Linked DNA regions of Homo sapiens. The protein of the gene in region 1 purifies or fractionates together with the protein of each later gene. This does not show direct contact. Each region holds a gene or a part of one and is shown on either strand. Other genes may lie near its edges.

The links. Proteins that work in one complex are often made in the same cells at the same time.
Region 2: the proteins of MAPK14 (region 1) and IQGAP1 purify together in Homo sapiens (affinity purification with mass spectrometry; 5 studies listed by BioGRID and IntAct, with this or other methods). This does not show direct contact.
Region 3: the proteins of MAPK14 (region 1) and CSNK1G2 purify together in Homo sapiens (affinity purification with mass spectrometry; 4 studies listed by BioGRID and IntAct, with this or other methods). This does not show direct contact.
Region 4: the proteins of MAPK14 (region 1) and MIDEAS purify together in Homo sapiens (affinity purification with mass spectrometry; 4 studies listed by BioGRID and IntAct, with this or other methods). This does not show direct contact.

The regions. Positions count from the first base shown.
Region 1 is NC_000006.12:36,072,808-36,076,307, forward strand, and holds part of MAPK14 (mitogen-activated protein kinase 14), read left to right. Parts: intron 1-65; coding exon 66-177; intron 178-883; coding exon 884-913; intron 914-1,241; coding exon 1,242-1,289; intron 1,290-3,040; coding exon 3,041-3,155; intron 3,156-3,500. UniProt on the Homo sapiens protein: Serine/threonine kinase which acts as an essential component of the MAP kinase signal transduction pathway.
Region 2 is NC_000015.10:90,394,742-90,398,241, reverse strand, and holds part of IQGAP1 (ras GTPase-activating-like protein IQGAP1), read right to left. Parts: intron 1-3,500. UniProt on the Homo sapiens protein: Plays a crucial role in regulating the dynamics and assembly of the actin cytoskeleton.
Region 3 is NC_000019.10:1,972,172-1,975,671, forward strand, and holds part of CSNK1G2 (casein kinase I), read left to right. Parts: intron 1-2,937; exon of another isoform or gene 2,938-3,500. UniProt on the Homo sapiens protein: Serine/threonine-protein kinase. Casein kinases are operationally defined by their preferential utilization of acidic proteins such as caseins as substrates. It can phosphorylate a large number of proteins. Participates in Wnt signaling.
Region 4 is NC_000014.9:73,722,304-73,725,803, forward strand, and holds part of MIDEAS (mitotic deacetylase-associated SANT domain protein), read right to left. Parts: intron 3,058-3,500; coding exon 2,969-3,057; intron 545-2,968; coding exon 395-544; intron 1-394.

The sequences.
Region 1 (3,500 bases):
TCTTCTGAAGATAAGAACTTTCTTAGGGGTTCTAGATTGTTATGTAACTTTTCACTAATTTCTAGGTATCTGGTGACCCATCTCATGGGGGCAGATCTGAACAACATTGTGAAATGTCAGAAGCTTACAGATGACCATGTTCAGTTCCTTATCTACCAAATTCTCCGAGGTCTAAAGGTACAGATAATACAAGTAATAATTTTTTAAAATGAATTCTCCCTTTCTCCCCTCCTTTTAGGGCTTAAACAAACAAGTAAACAACTTTTCTAATGGAAAATTCAAACACATAAAATCACAGGTAAAGGTCATATAGTACAGTAAACTGCCATGTTCACTCAGTGACAACAGTTACCGACATATGGCCAATCATGTTTCTTTTGTATTTCCCAAGCCCTGGATTATTTTAAAGCAAGTCTAGACATTATATAATACCATCCATAGATACTTCAGTTTGCATATCTGAAAGATAAGGACTCTTCATTCTTACATCTAAACAATAATTTATTGATGTAATCTAATATCTGGTCAGCGTAATGTTGAGATTTTCAAAAAATCCTCAAGAAAGACTAATTTATTTGTTGGAGGGGCAGATAAACAGTGTTTTAAAATTAAACCCATCTTTGATATTTAGCTGCTTTGAGTCCTTATTGAGCTCCAGAGTGCCAACCAGAAAATAGATTAAAAGCTCAACTGAGTGGAGTCAATGGCTGTGGAAATTATAGTAATGGTAAATGTACACAATACTGATAGTTACTTATGCTGATTTCTAATCTTACTATTAACACTAGCAGTTCTTACTGATTCATGAAAATGTGCAGCAAATATGTTATATAATATGACAATAGAAGGTTGGAGGTAACTTTGACTTTTTTCTCTTTTGCAGTATATACATTCAGCTGACATAATTCACAGGGTATGTATTGTGACTTTGATTACATTATTTTGGGGAAGTGGGGTGAGAGTGGAAGAATGGCATTTAGCCAAGATCCTAATCTAAACTTTAGCCATTGAAATGTTGATTGATTGCAACTTTACTGTAGGTTTAAGCTGATTAAAGAAAGAAGATGTGTAGTTTTTTTCTATGTAAGGCTAACTTGGACTGGATATTGACTGTAGGATGGAGATTGTCTTTTGATAGCTGGATGAAGTCTTTTATGTCTGGATCCTCATTATTACCTGTAGGGGGAGAATTGATCATGCATCATAAAGTTGATCCTGTCTTCCCTGTATTTGCTTCCTAGGACCTAAAACCTAGTAATCTAGCTGTGAATGAAGACTGTGAGCTGAAGGTAAAATGAAGAGACAGTATTCATTGTTTGCTTTACTTTGAGATTATATGTTTGACTAAGCAGGCAGACTTTCTTAGGGAGTAGCTTTGTGAGCCATGACTATCTGAAATTCGTATTATTTTTATTATCAGACTTTGAAATTTAAACCATTTCTGAGTAAGCTAAGTGACATTGAAAGTGGCATCACTTGTTTTTATTTTAACATAAAGTTAAATTATAAATTTGATATATTAGTCATAATAAAGGAGGATAATAGTCAAATATCAAGTAAGTAGGCCCAAAGAGGTGATAACTAGATTAAATACATTTCTAAGAGGAGAAATGGCAGAAACCCACTCACTCAAAATAATTCAAATAAAAAATAAGTGAATTAATTGTTTCTAAATAGCAAGCAGCTCTAGAACTTTTGTTCCATTTCATTTTTTTAACTTGAAAAAATGTCTGTACATTAGAATGCACCATTTCATTTGGCAAAATTATATATCCACTTAACTCACATTTATGATAAAGACCATTTCTTTTTTTTTCCTTTTTTTTGGGATGCAGTCTCACTCTGTTGCCCAGTCTAGAGTGCAGTGGTGTGATCTTGGCTCACTGCAACCTCTGCCTCCCGGGTTCAAGCGATTCTCCTGCCTCAGCCTCCCGAGTAGCTGGGACTACAGGTGCACGCCATCACACCCGGCTAATTTTTGTATTTTTAGTAGAGATGGGATTTCACCATGTTGGCTAGGATGGTGTCGATCTCCTGACCTCGTGATCCACCTGCCTCGGCCTCTCAAAGTGCTGGGATTGCAGGTGTGAGCCATTGCTCCCAGCCAAGAACATTTGGATTACTTTAAAAAGTTTATGGCCAGGCGTGGTGGCTCATGCCTGTAATCCCAGCACTTTGGGAGGCCAAGGCGGGTGGATTATGAGGTCAGGAGATAGAGACCATCTTGGCCAACACGGTGAAACCTCATCTCCACTAAAAATACAAAAATTTAGTTGGGCATGGTGGCGGGCACCTGGAGTCCCAGCTACTTGAGAGGCTGAGGCAGGAGAATGGCGTGAACCTGGGAGGCAGAGCTTGCAGTGCGCCGAGATAGTGCCACTGCACCCCAGCCTGGGCAACAGAGCAAGACTCCGTCTCAAAAAAAAAAAAAAAAAAAAAAAAGTTTATTGTGTCCCTTCCTAGTCAATCCCTACCCCTCCACCCCTAACTCTGGCTCCAGGCAACTATGGATCTGCTTCTAACACTATAGATTAGGTTTATCTTTTCTGGAGTTTCATGTAAATGGAATCATATAGTGTGTATTTTTGTGTGTCTGGCCTTTGCTTGGTGTAATGATTCGGTATTGTTGTGTGTGTCAGTGGTTTCTTCCTTTTTATTGGTAATAGTATTTTGTTTTATGAACATAACAGAATTTTTAAATCTATCCACCTGCTGATGGACATTTGCTTGAGTTTGAGGCTGTGTAAAGCAACTGTGAATGTTTATGTGCAAACCTTTGTATGGACGTAAGTTCTCATTGCACTTGATTAAATACCTGGGAGTGACATTTTTGTTTTGCTTTTTGTAATTTCATTTTAAGTTCTTGCTGTATATTTACCATACATTCTAAGTATGGACCAGGAAATCTCTTTATGAAAGTGCTATTTTGTTCTCCTTTTTAATAAGGCAACAGAGGTTTGTTTGTTGTTGTTGTTTTGTTTTTTTTTCCCTGCCTGTTTCTAAGTCTTAGCAGTTTGTCTGTTCCTCTTCTGCCCTTTAGATTCTGGATTTTGGACTGGCTCGGCACACAGATGATGAAATGACAGGCTACGTGGCCACTAGGTGGTACAGGGCTCCTGAGATCATGCTGAACTGGATGCATTACAACCAGACAGGTATTACTCGCCTTGGTTATTTAGGGCCTTATTTAATTCCATGTTGGATGCATTTGGGATTCTCAGAAATAGAGATGGTGGGAGTGGGAAGAAATGTCTTTTCTTCCCTCAGTGATCCTTTTAAAGCCTGCAAGTAAAAATATTTCACTTCCTCAGATGGGGAAGTGGGGTTTTATACACAGCTTTTAAACCTTGTGATTTAGCAATTGGGTTTTTATTTATTTAGATTTTGAATATATTCTCTGAGTACTTATACCTAAAGACAATTAGTCCATAATTTTAACCCCTCAATGTTACTTGGAAGAATCTACCATTCTACTAATAAGAAACTTGCCCCTTTTTAAA
Region 2 (3,500 bases), on another chromosome or scaffold:
TCATCTTCACATTAAATCTGCTTTTCCTTTTGCAGATTTAATGTGAAAATTCAGGAGGCCGGGCACAGTGGCTCATGTCTGTAATCCCAGCACTGTAGGAGGCCAAGGCGGGTGGATCACCTGAGGTCAGGAGTTTGAGACCAGCCTGGCCAACATGGTGAAACCCCCGTCTCCACTAAAAAATACAAAAATTAGCTGGGTATGGTGGTAGGCACCTGTAATCCCAGCTACTTGGGAGGCTGAGGCAGGAGAATCGCTTGAACCCAGAAGGCAGAGGTTACAGTGAGCCAACATAGTGCCACTGCACTCCAGCCTGGGCAACAAGAGTGAGACTCCATCTCAAAAAAAAAAAAGAAAAAAAAAAAGAAAAGAAAAAATTCAGGATATCCTTTATCCAGGTGCTTGGATAAAAGTTTATTGAGTTCAGGCCGGGCGTGGTGGCTCACGCCTGTAATCCCAGCACTTTGGGAGGCCGAGGCAGGTGGATCACGAGGTCAGGAGATCGAGACCATCCTGGCTAACACAGTGAAACCCCATCTCTACTAAAAATGTAAAAAATTAGCCAGGTGTGGTGGCAGGCGCCTGTAGTCCCAGCTACTCGGGAGGCTGAGGCAGGAGAATGGTGAGAACCTGGGAGGCGGAGGTTGCAGTGAGCCAAGATTGTACCACTGCACTCCAGCCTGGGCGACAGAGCAAGACTCCGTCTCAAAAAAAAAAAAAAAAAAAAAAAAGTTTGTTGAGTGCCTACTGTATTTCACTGTGCCAAGCAATTAACCATCACAGCAGCTCTGTAAGATGCATAGCGTTCCCATTCTGCAAAGGACAAATTTGGGCTCACTCCCTGACGTTAAGCAACTTGCAAAACCAGAATCAGAACTCACACCTGCCAAAACAGAAAGTCTGATTCTTTTCACTGTGGCAAGATATCTCAACATTCAAGATTTTCAAAGAAATTTTATTCATACTTTTGAATTTCTATTTTACTTAATTATTCGTACTATGAGAATATAGAGCCACATGACTTTTCTTAATAATAATGGGTACTAACTAGTTCAACTCTTTACATTTCTTAATTTTAAATTTTGCTAGGCTGGGTGCAGTGGCTCACGCCTATAATCCCAGCACTTTGCGGGGGCCGAGGCGGGTGGATCACTTGAGGTCAGGAGTTGGAGACCAGCCTGGCCAACATGGTCAAACCCCATCTCTACTAAAAATACAAAAATTAGCCAGGCATGGCAGTGGGCACCTGTAATCCCAGCTACTCGGGAGGGTGAGGAAGGAGAATCGTTTGAACCCGGGAGGCAGAGGTTGTGGTGAGCCCAGATCGCACCACTGCACTCCAGCCTGGGCAACAGAGCGAGACTCCGTCTCCAAAAAAAAAAAAAATTTTTTTTGCTAAATTTTCAGCTACATGGTAGGGTAAAAAGCTTTCGGCAGCCACATTAGGAATGAATACTCCCCATTTGCAACAGTGTTACAATACAGAAAAGCACTCAGCTTCAACCACTTTTAATAAATACACTTTTAAATGCAACCCACTTCTTATGGTGGAGCCTGTCCAAGGCCGTTGCACTAAATTAATATCCGAAAAAAGAATGGAGGTTTATTCTTAAAATAGTGTATGTCACCATTTTAAGAGTTAAGAATAAATCTCACCCCATACTTCCCCTTGGTAATTATAAATAAATGAATGGATCAGCTCCTAGTGCCACCGTGCCATTACGCAGCTACATGCTATGGTCCTTTAGTCACACTGGGTCTCATGAGATAACTAGACTTCTCATCTGTACAAAGAGAGCTTGGGTCACCATCCTAAAAATGATCCCCCTCAAAATTTAAGTGATGCTCCTCATTTTGAGAATTCTAGAAGTGCTGGGCATGATATTCTTCCTAGTCACCTCACCTACCCATTTTGTTTTCTTGCTTCTTAAATGTCTTAACTTCTATTTTCATGATCCCAGGGTGCCAGCCTGGACATATCCCAACATTCATGGAATTCTGAAATCACTTACAGGGAGAGGAGATCTGAAGAGCCCATCCCAGAAAATGCTCTATGCCAACAGTAAAGACATATGCACAAAAAAGACTTTGTTCCCAAGAACTAATTTCTTTCCAAGATACCTTTTCAATTCCTCTAAATTACAGAAAGTGACATACTTCTACTTAGTGCTAAGCTCGACTTATCACCGTGGAGTTGCTGACAGTCTCCAACCAGCCAGCGTTCCTACCTTCCCTTCTACAAGAGGGGTGTGCCCTATTCCTTGAGCTAGGGTACGGGCACTCAGCAGCAGAAAGGTGGCCCATGACAGACTTGAAAGCGCACACCAGGAATTGTCTGAAACTCAGAGAATGCTGGAATTAACTTTCTTCCTGTGACCTTTAACCTAGCTGAATTTTCTTCCATTTCCAGTACTAATCGTACTTTCTTCTCACTTGCAGAATTCCCTGTTCTGTCCTGCCTGACACGTTCTCTTCTTGGTTCTTTTCACCTGAACCTTATTCTGATCTGTTACTTCCTCCTGTCCAAGACCTAAGCACTGAACATACCTCACATATTTAAATGTTACCTCCTTCAACTGAGTGAAACGGTATTCATTGCTCCTATACAACTGCTCTTTAGCCGGCCGGGCGCAGTGGCTCACGCCTGTAATCCCAGCACTGTGGGAGGCCAAGGCGGGCGGATCACGAGGTCAGGAGATCAAGACTATCCTGGCTAACACGGTGAAACCCCGTCTCTACTAAAAATACAAAAAATTAGCCAGGCGTGGTGGTGGGCGCCTGTAGTCCCAGCTACTCGGGAGGCTGAGCCAGGAGAATGGCGTTAACCTGGGAGGCGGAGCTTGCAGTGAGCCGAGATAGCGTCATTGCACTCTGGCCCGGGCGACAGAGCGAGACTCCGTTTCAAAAAAAAACAAAAAAACAAAAAAAACCCCGCTCCTTAGCCTAAACAAATGTAAAACTCAATAAGAACAGGCAAAAGGATAAAAATAAGCTTCAATTTAAGCATAAATAATAATTTAAGATGTATCCTTGATCTATTGTGCAGCCCTTAGCAAAAAGCCTTGAATCGTTAGGTGATATCTCATTAGAACAGCGGCTTAATTTCAATATTGAAGCTGCTCTCCAAACAATGAAGAAAAGCAGAAATCTCTACATTTTCTATTTCTCAACCACTCCCAGTGCTCATTTATAGGAATTACCCCTAAATTTTCCCAGTTAACCTTTCAGGGAAACACAAACCCACAGCCACAGAAAACTTTCGTCTCTCTACACTTATACTCTCTTACTTATACTCACTGCCTCTACACAGTCATATTCACTCTCTACACACTCCTCTCTTTTCCCAAGAAAGAGCTCTGTTACAGGCAGAGGAGAAAATGGAGTGCCCTAGGATACACAATGGGGCCACTGTACTAAAAGGTGGAGCTTTTAGTAGAAGTAGAGGTATTATAAATAGAACTGAAGAGGGGAAGCTTTTCTCCCTCCAATCTCTATGATCT
Region 3 (3,500 bases), on another chromosome or scaffold:
GTGCCGGGAGGCCGTCCATCGGAGGACACACCAGCCCTTCTTCATCTGCTCCCAGCGCAGGGACGCTTGGCTGTTTCTGGATTTGGGCCCTTCTGAATAGAACTAACTGCCCAAATAGAACTGAATAGCACTGGGCTCCTCGAGCACTCCACGTCCCCAGCACTCAGGACTGTTGGTGGCTTTGATGTTGAGCCTGTTGTGGACTCCGGTTGTTGAATGTTGTTCCGTTGTCTAGAATGTTCTAGAATGTGTCGTTTTTTCTGTTTTTAAGGTTTTTATCTTTGATTTAAAATATTGACTATGCTCTCCTTAGATGAGGCTTTCTGTTTTTATCCTGCTTGGGATCCACTGACTTCTTGGATCTCTGTGTTGGTACTTTTTCAAATTAACTTTGGAAAAATGTGAGCCATTATTTCATGAAACGTTTTTCCATCTCAGCTTTGCTTTGCTTTGTTTTGTTTTGTTTTTGAGATGGAGTTTCACTCTTGTTGCCCAGCCTGGAGTGCAGTGGCACCATCTCGGCTCACCACAACCTCTGCCTCTCGGGTTCAAGCAATTCTCTTGCCTCAGCCTCCCGAGTAGCTGGGATTACAGGCGTGAGCCACCATGCCTGGCTAATTTTTTATATTTTTAGTAGAGATGGGGTTTCACCTTGTTGGCCAGGCTGGTCTTGAACTCCTGACCTCAGGTGATCCACCTGCCTCGGCCTCCCAAAGTGCTGGGATTACACATGTGAGTTACCGCGCCTCGCCTGCTTTGTTTTTTTTTTTTTTTGAGACAGAGTCTCGCTCTGTCACCCAGGCTGGAGTGCAGTGGCGTAACCTCAGCTCACTGCAAGCTCTGCCTCCCAGGTTCGTGCCATTCTCCTGCCTCAGTCTCCCAAGTAGCTGGGACTACAGCCGCCCGCCACCACACCCAGCTAATTTTTTGTATTTTTAGTAGAGACGGGGTTTCGCCGTGTTAGCCAGGATGGTCTCCATTTCCTGACCTCGTGATCTGCCCGCCTCGGCCTCCCAAAGTGCTGGGATTACAGGCGTGAGCCACCGCGCCTGGCCTTGCTTTGGTTTTTTGAGACAGAGTCTCACTCTCTTGCCCAGGCTGGAGTGCAGTGGCGCGATCTCGGCTCACTGCAACCTCCGCCTCCTGGGTTCAAGCAATTCTGCCTCAGCCTCCCAAGTAGATGAGATTACAGGTGCCTGCCACCACGCCCAGCTAAATTTTTGTATTTTTAGTAGAGACAGGGTTTTGCCATGTTGGCAAACTCCTGACCTCAGGTGATCTGCCCGCCTTGGCCTCTGAAAGTGCTGGGATTACAGGCGTGGGCCACCATACCCAGCCTTGCTCTCATTCCTGGGTTCTGGTTCTGCGTGTGACAGGAGTGCTTGGCCCTGTCCCCAGGTCCCTCAGCCCTGGCTGTTTTCCGTCTGCCTCTGTGCTCTCCTGGTGTCAGGCTGTGCGGCTGCTGCTGCTGCTGCTTGAAAGTTTACTCTTTTTCTGCAGCCTCCAACCCCAGAAGTCCATGTGGTGAATCTTTGATTGCTTAGTGGCATTTTTCGGTTTCGTCTGATTGTCCATTCGCTCTCAGCTGAGATTTCCCATGTGCACATTCACTTTGGCCATCTTTTCCTTTAAATCTTTGAACATGTTTGTGCTGTTTCTTAGTCCATTTTGTGCTGCTGTAACAGAATGCCACAGACTGGGTCATTTATTTTTATTTATTATTTATTATTTTTTGAGATGGAGTCTTGCTCTGTTGCCCAGGCTGGAGTGCAGTGGTACTATCTTGGCTCACCACAACCTCCGCCTCCCGGGTTCAAGCAATTCTCCTGCCTCAGCCTCCCGAGTAGCTGGGATTACAGGCGCCCGTCACCACACCCAGCTAATTTTTGTATTTTCAGTAGAGACAGGGTTTCACTGTGTGTTGGTTGGCTAGGCTGGTCTCAAACTCCTGACCTCGTGATCTACCTGCCTCAGCCTCCCAAAGTGCTAGGGTTACAGGCATGAGCCACTGCACCTGGCCAGATCATTTATAATGAACAGAAATTGATGGGCTCACCGTTCTGGAGGCTGGTGAGCCCCAGATTGAGGGTGGCGTCTGGCAAAGACCTTCTTGCCATGTCATGGCAAGAAGGCATGGTGGAAGGCAGGACGGCACAGACCGGAGGGGGCTGGATTCGCCCTTTAGTCAGGAACCCACTCCCCTGCTGATGGCATTCACTCATCCACGAGGGCAGCGACTCAGATCCTCTCTCTAGGCCCCAGCCCCAGCCCCAGCAGTGCTGGATTGGGGACCAGGTTCCCAACACATGACCCTTGGGGGGTGCATCAAAGACACAGCACTGTGTGGAGTGACGTCTGTGCTGCTTCTTCCTCCCTTGTCACGGTCACACCTCCCTCACTCACCTGTGGGACAGCCTCACTGGGCGTGGCCGTGGTGTGTGCCGTGAGGTGTGGAGGGTGCCGTCTCCCGGCTTGAGCGCTGAGTTTGTCCCCGTGGCTCACCTTGTTTCTGTCAGGTTGGTTTCAGCGTTGCTGGGGCAAGGCTGAGGGTAAACATGAGCGACTCCAAGGCCAGGGAGCCCTGTGCCAAGGTGTGGACCTTTTGGGTTCTCAGCTGAAGTAGAGAATCCAGGGAGGACCCCGCACTCCGGCCATTGGAGCTGTGGCGTCCTCCCTCCTGTGTGTCCCCCGGAACCTCCTGAGCCTCTCTGGAGCTGTTCTCTGCCAGGCCCCGTGGGCTCTCCTGCCCTCTGCATGCATCGCGAGTACTGCCGGAGGAGGCCCCTTTGGCTTTCAGAGCCCAGAGCGCCCGACCTCCTCCAGGAGTCTGCAGATCCACAGGCCTCAGATGCTGCCACACCCACCCAGCACACACCCAGGTCTCTGACACGCCAGCCGCACACAGCGGTGGGGTTCAGGCGAAGGTTTCTTCCACAGTGCAGAGTAGAAGAGCCGGGAAGGACCCCATCACCATCAGATGCATCAGAGCTTCAAAGGCCCGCCCATCAAGACGCTGCCAAGAGCATGAGGCCAGCCAGGCTGGGGAGGACGTTGGCGAGCATCCGCCTGCCCGTCAGGGAGCCACAGCTGGATGATACATCGACAGACAGCAGAGGGACGGTGTAGCACACAGGCGAGGGCTTGTCCTCCTCAGCCTGGGGGAGCGCAGCTCAGTGCTTGGTGGTCAGCACGTGACTGACACTTTGCCGGAGAAGGGGACGGCTGCCCGCAGGAAGAGCTACACAGCCGTGTTCGCCGGAACTCCGCTCTGGAGAGTCAGAACTGGAGACGGGAGGGCGTGCCTCAAGGGCAGATGGGCAAACCAAACCCCATCCTCCCTGTGAGCCGCGGCACAGCACCAGGCGGGCACACGCAGCACGACACGGCGAGGAGCCCACCGCAGGGGCAGCCTTTTGGGCGGGGAAGGGGGGATGAATCCACTGTGAATCCCACCTCCGAAGGGCAGCGCAGGAAGGACACGCAAATGCTGGACTGAACCT
Region 4 (3,500 bases), on another chromosome or scaffold:
AGTAATGGCACAAGTAGTATATGAATATGACAAAAATTCTAATGGCGACACATGGTAGGATGCAGATATGGCAGAAATCAAAAAGGTGATACAAGAATGACTGAGGTTTGAGAAACAGTGTTAGAGGTCTGCTAAGCGGAGATAGGAAGATGATGCTGGTGTGAATCTTGTGGGAAAATTACCCTGTGTATCAACACAATGTATTATTACTATGACACCAGCAGTATAGAGAGGAGAACCCAGCGGTCCAGGGCTCCTTGCGGCTGTCAGGGACACTGTCTTCCTCAACCTGCCCTCTGCAGGCTCCTGGAGAGCTCGGGCTCGGGCTCCCAGCTCAGGCCTGGTCCCAGACCCAGCCCAGGCTCTATGCAGCTGAGGTTGGAAAAGGAGTCACCTTAATATCCACTTCAACCTCTTCCTGGGCCGACTTCTCATCGCTCGTATCCACATCCCCAAAGGTTAGAGTCCCATTGCGGCCGATTTTCACCTGCTTCTTGTAGGTGTAGTAGAACTCCACGCACTGGGCCACGGTCTTGGTCTGGATCTGGTTTGAAGTCAAAACTGAGGTCAGAACCCTCTGGTTTGGCTCATCTGCCTGTGGAGAATCCAGCCTTTCTCGTCCCTGCATCTTTCCCTTAACTTCAAGCCAAAATGAAACCCAGCCAACCCAGGCAATACAAGCATTTTTCCAATGCCTGCTCTGCAACAAACCACTGATCAATTAATCAATGCTTCAGCACTATTTAAAATAAGTAAATAAATAAAAAAAGCTATAAAGGACAATGTCGGAACCACTCGGGAGATGGCAATATGGATTGCATATCAGAGGGCATTACTGTATTTTTTTTTCTTTTTTTTGGAGACAGAGTCTCGCTCTGTCACTCAGGCTGGAGTGCAGTGACGCGATTTTGGCTCACTGCAACCTCCGCCTCCCAGGTTCAAATAATTCTCGTGCCTCAGCTTCCTGAGTAGCTGGGATTACAGGTGTGTGCCACCACAACCAGCTAGTTTTTTTTAAATATTTTTAGTAGACATGGGGTTTTGCCATGTTGGCCAGCCTGGTCTCAAACTCCTGGCCTCAGGAGTGATCCGTCTGCCTCTGCCTCCCAAAGTGCTGGAATCACAGGCGTGAGCTACCTCGCCTGGCCTGAATTATTTTATCAGGTTAAATTTCGTGGGCGTGCTAATGGTACTGTGGTTTTGTAGAATATCTTGGTTTTTAGGAGATACGTGCTGAAAGGTTTTAGTCATGTGACAGGATGACTGTAACTTACTTTTAATGATTAGCTGAATCAGAGAACAAGAGAGAGCTGTATATGTGTGTGTCTATGTTTAGACATAGAGAAAGAGAAAGCAAATATAGCCAATGTTAACGATTGCTAAATCTAAGTCCGGGGTGGATGGGTGTTCATTCTACTGTTCTTTCCATTTTCCTCTAAGTTTGAAATTTTTCAAACTGAAAAGTTGAGGGAAAAGGTCTGGGCACCATCTACATCCAAAGCCAGCCCTGACCTGGCAACACAGACGCTTTTCATTAATCCAGGCAAACAATTTCATTTCTCTCCAGGGAGCAGTGGCTGAGAAGTGAGCATACAGAAATGTCACAGTGTCCCCTGTCGGGGGAGGAACTCAAGGGAAACTCACAAGAAAGCCCTGGAAAACCTGAGGAGGAAGCGAAAGGCCTAAGTCTTCCTCCTGACTCTGCTACCACACAGCTATTCGAGCTTAGGCAAGTCACTCACTTTTCTAATTTCAGTTTTTTCATGTGTAAATAGCAAATGGGGTTAAGTAAGACTAGATGATCTCCAGGGACCTGCCTCTCAAGCTCTGAAATTCTAGCTCTCCCATTGCATAAATCTATTTGGCCACTGGGTTTAGTTTTTGGGCAACTTTCCCACACCCAGAGGCTGTTTCCTCTGACACCACCACACAGGCTCGCACATTGCTCAGCCACCGCTGGGCTGGGAGCTCCTGTCCAGAGAGGCCAGGGGTCAGTGTGGGCCCTTTGTGTCTGAGGAGGAAACAGACATGTTTCATCTCACAGAAATGGCCAAGTCACACATGTATTAATTAGGCCATTTACACATTTACTGTCAATTCTCTCTGACCCTTTGTTTGACTGACTAAAGGTCTGCTCATTTCATTAGGCATTAGGGGCGCCTCCGTGAATTTCACGGGCGTGTACTTCCCGTCAGTATTGCCCAATCAGGGAATAGCGTGTTACTAAAACACAGCAAAGGACTCCTCACAACAGGGCCCTTGTAGGGGAATTCATCATCAGCACTTTGTCTAGTCCCCAGGGCTGTTCCCAATACAATCTACAATCCCAAGAGGAAAGGGCATGCTCTTTTTAAAAACTCTTTTCCCTTGGCAGTCCACACAATTCTCTCTCCCCACAGCCCAGATTTTGTGAGACAGGGCTGGAAAGATGCAATTCCTTGGATTAGCAAAGCATCTGCTTTTCCAGAAGAATATGGAGAGAGGACAAGATAAATCTAGGGAATGTGGGCTTGAACAGCTGAGTTACTGGAAGGCAACTCTGGGTCAAAGGAAGTGGGCAGAGGCCCCCAGGTCAGCTCCGCAGGCACTTGCTGGCTCTCAGTGGCCTTCACCCCAGGGTGCCCTCCCCCTGCATCTTCCTCTGGGGAATGGCTCACCTCTACTTGCCACCCTCCTCCGCATCTTCCTCCTGCCTATTTTAAGTCTGATGCCCACTTAGGCCTCCTTCTGGATTGAGACCCCAGAGCTTGGCCACCCTACCCTGAAGTGAGGAAAGGATGCTTAGAACCAAAAGGGAAAAGAGACCTATCTTTCTCTTTCTTGTATTGTTTAGGAAATTCTCTCTGAGGCTACTCAGTAGCATTGACCTGACTGCTTTTTAAGAGGGATTGGTCACTGGCAGAGGGAGCCCCAAAGTCACACAGGCAGCTCCTGGCCCTCATTTGCCCTGAAACAGAGCCCAGCTCACCAGCTTCTGCACCAGGAAGAAATCCTTCTTGTAGATGGCAATGCCTTTGTTGAACAGCTTCCTCTCGGCCATCTTCCACTGGTCAGAGCCTATGGGGCAAAGAGGCAGCCAGGGAGTGAGGTGGGCAGGGCCCTGGCCACTGCAGGGCAATTTTGACAAGCAAAAAAGTGTGAGGCCATCCGCCCATGGTTTCTGCAGGCATCAGAGCCGGCTCCTCGTCCCACTTCCATGTGCCTCACAGCCTCGCTCCCTTGCTTGTGAAATGGAAACTAATATCACCTAGCTCACCAGCTGTGGTGAGGATTAAATAAGATAATGCATGTGAAACCCTTGGTGCTCTGCCTGGTGCAGATGAAATGTAGCACTAACATGCATGGAAAACATTGGCTGTTAGGATTATGTGACTCGGTCCATGTCCTTCTTAAAGTGACCAGAACAGGACATGCACTCCTGGGGCTAAGTTCCAGGTACCTGATGCCAATCTGGATGGCTCTCCATGGGTTCCTGTCCTTGTGGCCTGGGCTTTTTTGCC